Regions from separate parts of the Homo sapiens genome. Here region 2 is linked to region 1. A link means that fine-mapping ties the variant in region 1 to the expression of a gene that starts in the linked region. Tissue or cell type: anterior cingulate cortex. Region 1 holds a variant in brackets; the other region holds the start of a gene. All regions are shown on one strand. Distances are between the middles of the regions.

Region 1 (2,840 bases):
GTCTCAAAAAAAAATTAAAAGAAAAAAAAAACAAAGGAGGCAGCAGGTTAAAGGTGACTAAGAGATGAAACCACCAAATGCAACGCATGCACCTTATCAGGATCCTGGGTTTTGTTTGTTTATTTTTATTTTTTAAGACAGAGTCTTGCTCTGTCGCCCAGGCTGGAGTGCAGTGGCATGATCTCAGCTCACTTCAACCTCCTCTTCCCAGGTTCAAGTGATTCTCCTGTCTCAGCCTCCCAAGTAGCTGGGATTACAGGCATGCTCCACCAGGCCCGGCTAATTTTTTTTTGTGCTTTTAGTAGAGGTGGGATTTCACTACATTGGTGAGACTGGTCTCGAACTCCTGACCTCAGATAATCCGCCCACTTCAGCCTCCCAAAGTGCCGGGATTACAGGCATAAGCCACCGCGCCCAGCCTGGGATCCTGTTTTGAACAAACCCAGCTGGAAAAGCCATTTGGGAGACAACCAAACAAACATGGACTGGGCAGGCCATGATATTAGAAAATCAGGGTTAATTTTGTTAGCTGTGATCATGGTATTGTGGTTCAGTAAAAGAAAATGTCATTTTTAAAAGAAAATGTCTAAAAAAGATTTAGGGGGAAATGTCACAGAGACAGTAACTGACTTTAGATTAGTTTAGAAAAGAAAACCAGATGAAGCAAATATGGCAAAATGTTAGCGATTGTTAAATATAGAGGCTGGATCCGGAGGCGTTCATAAGGCTGCTGTCTGCACTCTCCGGAGGTTGAGATTTTCCATAATAAAGAGTTGTTTTCAACGTTTAATAAAGTGTGCACACAGGGGAGGACGCAGGCGTGAAAGGACAATGTTTAGAACACATTTACAGTCACACAACAATAAGGAGCGATTTATGGGTCTTCCGGAAGAAGTGACTGGGTTTGAAATTCCACGTGGGTGCCTGGGGGAGTGTGCACTTGTCAGAGGACAAAAGCCCTCGACGCTCTTGCGTTCACTCAGTAGCCATGGTTCACGCGCCCCACGGCAAGTGCTGCGAGGGGGAGAGACACAGGGAAATGGCCCTGAAATGGCACAGGGAGGTGCCCAGGCTCCGAGCAGCCCGGAGGACTCTGGAACCGTGGGGAAGCTGCCGGTATGGAGCCCAGTGAGCTCCTGGAACAGCACTACCGCTCCCCAAGACCTCCACCCACTTCATCGCTTATGGCACCTGCTGCGGGGTTAGGTGCCTGTCCACCTGCCAGGCAACCTAGTTCAAGCTGTTCCTCCAATCACATGACCCTGCAGACCAGCCCTGTGCCCTACCAGG[C/T]GGCGCCAGCCACCCCAGCTCACTTCTGGTGCCCTCAGGAGGATTTTGTCCAGTTGTTTGAGGCTGGCAGAGGTTTGTTGGGACACAGGGGGGTGTACAACAGGCCCCCCTGAGCCATTTCTGTTGAAGAGGTGTTTACTTGCCCTCCCAATTAGTTCCCAAGAGACTGGAAGTGTTGGAGTCTTGTTAGGAAAAGTGTGGATAAACTGTAAACGCCTGAGAAAGGTCTTTGGGCTGAAGGCTTTCTGGTGATGGTGGCCAAAGGGTCCTCCCAGGCTGGCACCCCACAGCGTGCAGAGCAGTCTAGTCCACAAAAGGAGCCACACTCGCTCATGTGTCCCCACATCAACCATCCCCAAAACCGGACTCAAGGGCAGAAGTGTCGTGGCAGCGTCTCTAAGCAGCGCGGGCTAATGCAGAGGCCGCTGCATTTACCTGGGGTGCCGCGCACAGCCCAGACGTGCTGGGGAGTGAGCGATTCTGGGGTTGGCCCTTTAGAAGTGCTGGAGGTGTCATGTGAAATCCTAACTCGGGGGCAGCCTCCCCAGGAAGCAGGCCGGGTCTAGGGGGCTAGACTCTTTGATTTTTAACTATCCAATGCAATTCTGCAATAGATATTGGAGAGTGAATTTTAAACTGCTGTGTTCATTAGCTTGCCTCTCAATTATCAGCAGAGCTTTTGGCAGGACGGAAGTTGATTTATGTTTGTTTGCATGGAGGGGCCCCTAAAATCCCACCCCGCTTCAGCCTTGGACAGTCCTGTGCCTTTTCTAACAGATGGAGTGGAACAAGCTGAGTCACCCCACGCCGGGCCCGCTTGGGAACGCCGGGGTGGGGGTACTGCTCGGCTGACCCTCGGGTTTGGGTTTGCTGAGCAGGGTGGACAGGCCAACAAAGGGGGTCTACCAAGGTGCTGGGTCAGGGAGAAGCAACGTCCAGGGGGGCTCGCTGGAGGGGAACCTGGTGCCTCTAATGGGCTCCCTCCCCCCGCCGCACCCCCTGCAGTCACCATCTTCCCACAACATGTTCAAAATAAATTCTTACTAATCCATAATGGAACTGGTTCTCTTTGGGGCCACATCAGAACTGAGAACAACCTCAAGGCGGATGCGGCTGAGAGGGACTGCCTCCTGCGGGCGCCGCCACACACACTGGGAGTCTGCCACGTCCAAGGGACTGGATATGCTTCTTCCTTCCACACCTGCGCCCCCCACCCCCAGATGGCTTCATGCCCTCAGCAGCGGCTGGAGAAGAACCCGGAGGCTCAGATAGTAAAAACTCCTAGAGGCGCAGATGACGCTCCTTAGGAAAATGCAAAACTGAGGCTCATGCTTTCGTCTAAGCTGAAGTCCCTCTTGCTTGAGCACTTAAGCCCATAAGGCCTGATATTTCCCCAGGGGGAAGCACGGATTCTTATCATGCGCACAGTTGAGGCTCCATGTTCTACTCCCTTCCTCATGGAAGAGATGATCTGACTTTTAAAATGACAGTATGCAGGCGTGGTGCAGAGGTTCACACTGGTAATCCCAGCACTTTGGGAGGCCAAGGCA
Region 2 (2,670 bases), 990 kb before region 1:
CACACACTCTCACATGCACACACATGCACACTGACATGCTCACACACTCATATTCACATGCACACACAACTACATACACTCACACTCACATATTCATATTTACATACACAGCCAGGTGCTCACACATGTTCATGTTCAGCACATGCACACATATTCAGATGCACACACATGCTCACTCACACACACACCCCTGCCCTGCCAGCCCTCGCGCTGTGAAGGGGAAGCTCCCCAGGCTGGCCCCAGCTCCGGAGGAGGGAGCTGGGGGGAACGGAGGGGGCCCTGTGGACCCTCCAGCCTGCTGGGATCCCCTTCTCTCTCCCCGGACTCTGAAGCCTCTGTACACATTTGGAACCCCTGCCCCCGCGGCATCAGGAGGTGTGGGGTGAACAGCTCTGACAGTGCCTGACAGGGACGGGGACAAGGGGCTGCCAGGCCCAAACCCCGGGGAGCGTGATCAAGAAACAACCCCTGGTGACTTGGATGAGGCCCCCCAACTACACACCTCTAGGCTTCCCTCCCCCACTGTCGCCCCACAGCCCCCTCCTCCGGCTGTGAGGGGCCCCGAACTGGGCTCCCTCCCTCCTGTAGCCCTTGGGCTGTCAGTTTTGGGGGAAGACGGAGGGTGATGGGGAGGGAGCGGAGAGACACCCTGGGGCAGAGCGGGATGCAAGAGAGGGGTCCTGGAAGGGGGTCTGGCGGGGCAACACGAGCAGGGCGGGGTTAAGGGGGTGTCGGAGGGACGAGGTCGCGGAGGGAGGAGGGCCGGCGCGGTGGCCGGTTACCTTCGCAGATGCGCCAGAGCCCCGAGTGCGAGGAGAGCAGCTCTGCGCGCCCGGGCCAGGCGCTGCCATTGCCGGCGTCCGCCACCTCCAGGATGTACCAGTAGTCGCTGGCGACCGCGGCGGCCAGGAGCGCGAAGCTGAGCAGTGCACCCAGGGCGGCGGCCAGGAGCAGCGCGCCCAGCCGGGCCATGGGGGCGGCCGGCGGGAGGGGACGGGTCGGGGGTAGCAGGGCCCCGGGGGCGGCGGGGGGCGCGCGGAGCCGGGAGCCGGGGGACGGGGGGCGGGCGGGCGCGGCGGCGCCCGGCTCTTCTGAGCACGTCCCCGCTCCTGCCCGCGCACTGGCCTCGCGGGCCCCCTGGGGTCGCAGGGAGATCGACCCCACCTCTCTGCGGTCGCTGAGCTCGCCCCTGGGGGAAAGGAGAGGAAGTCGAGAGCCGCGCGGCGAACCTGGGGCTTGGGCTCCAATCCCAGCGTCCCCACGGGCTGGCCCCGGGTCCCTGGGCACGTTCCTTAATTTCCCTGAACCCCCGGCTCCTCAGCAGCCAAACAAGATGCACCTGCCTGGCCGGGCTGTGCAGGGCTTGAGAGGAGGAGGGAGGATCGGCCAGAGACCGACCCCAGGAGGATGGCCGGCCAGGCAGCAGGACCACCCACCCGTGCTCCTGGAAGCATAGGAGCCTGGCACGGGCTGGCCCTGGGGTCCTGGTCTGTATCAGTCCTGAGGACCAACCAGACGGCATCCGGTGAAGTGCAGTGGCTGGGCCCCACAGCCGGGCGGGGGGCTGCGGAAGGAAAAAACCTTGTTTTGGATTCACTCATAATTACAAATGCCCCCTCCAGCAAGGCCGGCCTCTGCCTGTCCAGTCACTCACGGAGAAAACAGGCAGAAAGAACCTTCTAGGACAGGCGTGGGGTGCCAGTGGGGGTGGGAGGCAGAGGAGCCGGCGAGAGGCCCCCACCCATCCACCCAGGACTAGCCCCATGAGCAACGCCCGCGTGGGCAGCCACACAGGCGGAAGGGACAGGCTGGGCAGCCATCGCCTAAGGTCTGGGGTTAAATCTCAAACGAAGGGGAGGCTTCCTCTGGGTTGCCACACAGGGCTGGGCAGAGCCTGCAGAGAGGGGATCAGAGGTCTGAGGACATCCTCCCGGATGGTGGCCCTTGGAGGTGAAGCCAAGGCTCTCTTCTTGGGGCGTTTTGGCCATGCTTTCCTCTGCTAGGCTCTTGTTGGTTTGAGGAATATAGTCAGGAAGGAAAAACCAGCCTAGCAGTTATTGAAACAATATTTCAAACAGAGTTCAGACAGAGTGACAGAATGGCTCAGGTATTTTGTAGCCGTCCTCACACCTGCAGCACCAGACTGTGTTGCCGCACGTGGGCAGCTCTGGGGTTTTCCAGCCCCCTTGGAGCTGGGGCTTCCCTGACCACAGCCCCTCTCTGGGAGCCATGTGGCATCCAGCAGCCCTGTTCTCTAGGGGTGGGGATAGCACATTAGATCTGGAAGGTGAAAGAACTCAACAGGTGCTCAGAGAGTAGCAGCCGTTATAAAGGCAGAGGCGATAGGGATAGGGGGTGGGGCCTCGTTCCCCCCCTAAACACACTGCAGCTGGGGAAAGAACGGTGCGTGATGAAAACTCGTGGTACTCTGACACTGACCCCACAATAAAGCAATATAACAAGAATCAATATTGCTTCGGTTGGATCAACACCTTTGTGCATGTGAAAGGTACGAACTGACTCTGCAGGGAGAACAGAGGAGCCCCATTTGGGCTGCGTGCTCCATGTGTGTCCTCCCGGTGACTTCCCCTTCTCTCTCTCACTCTATTTATTTTTTTAGAGACAAGGTCTCCCTATGTTGCCCAGGCTGGACTCAAACTCCAGGGTTCA

Evidence for each region. PIP is the estimated chance that this variant, and not a neighbour inherited with it, causes the effect.
Region 2: it holds the start of TMEM235, and the variant in region 1 is the best candidate, but not a certain one, in a credible set for the expression of TMEM235 in anterior cingulate cortex (GTEx, PIP 0.55).

What each region holds. Positions count from the first base shown.
Region 1 is chr17:77,240,744-77,243,583 of GRCh38, reverse strand. No RefSeq gene overlaps it. Among named protein-coding and RNA genes, the nearest start is that of LACAT1, 12 kb to the left of the region's middle. The variant C/T (reference allele first, on the strand shown) is at 1,291.
Region 2 is chr17:78,230,326-78,232,995 of GRCh38, reverse strand. TMEM235 (transmembrane protein 235) reads right to left here and starts at 1,365. Exons shown (of 5, transcript NM_001395503.1): 1 at 783-1,365. The coding sequence starts at 972.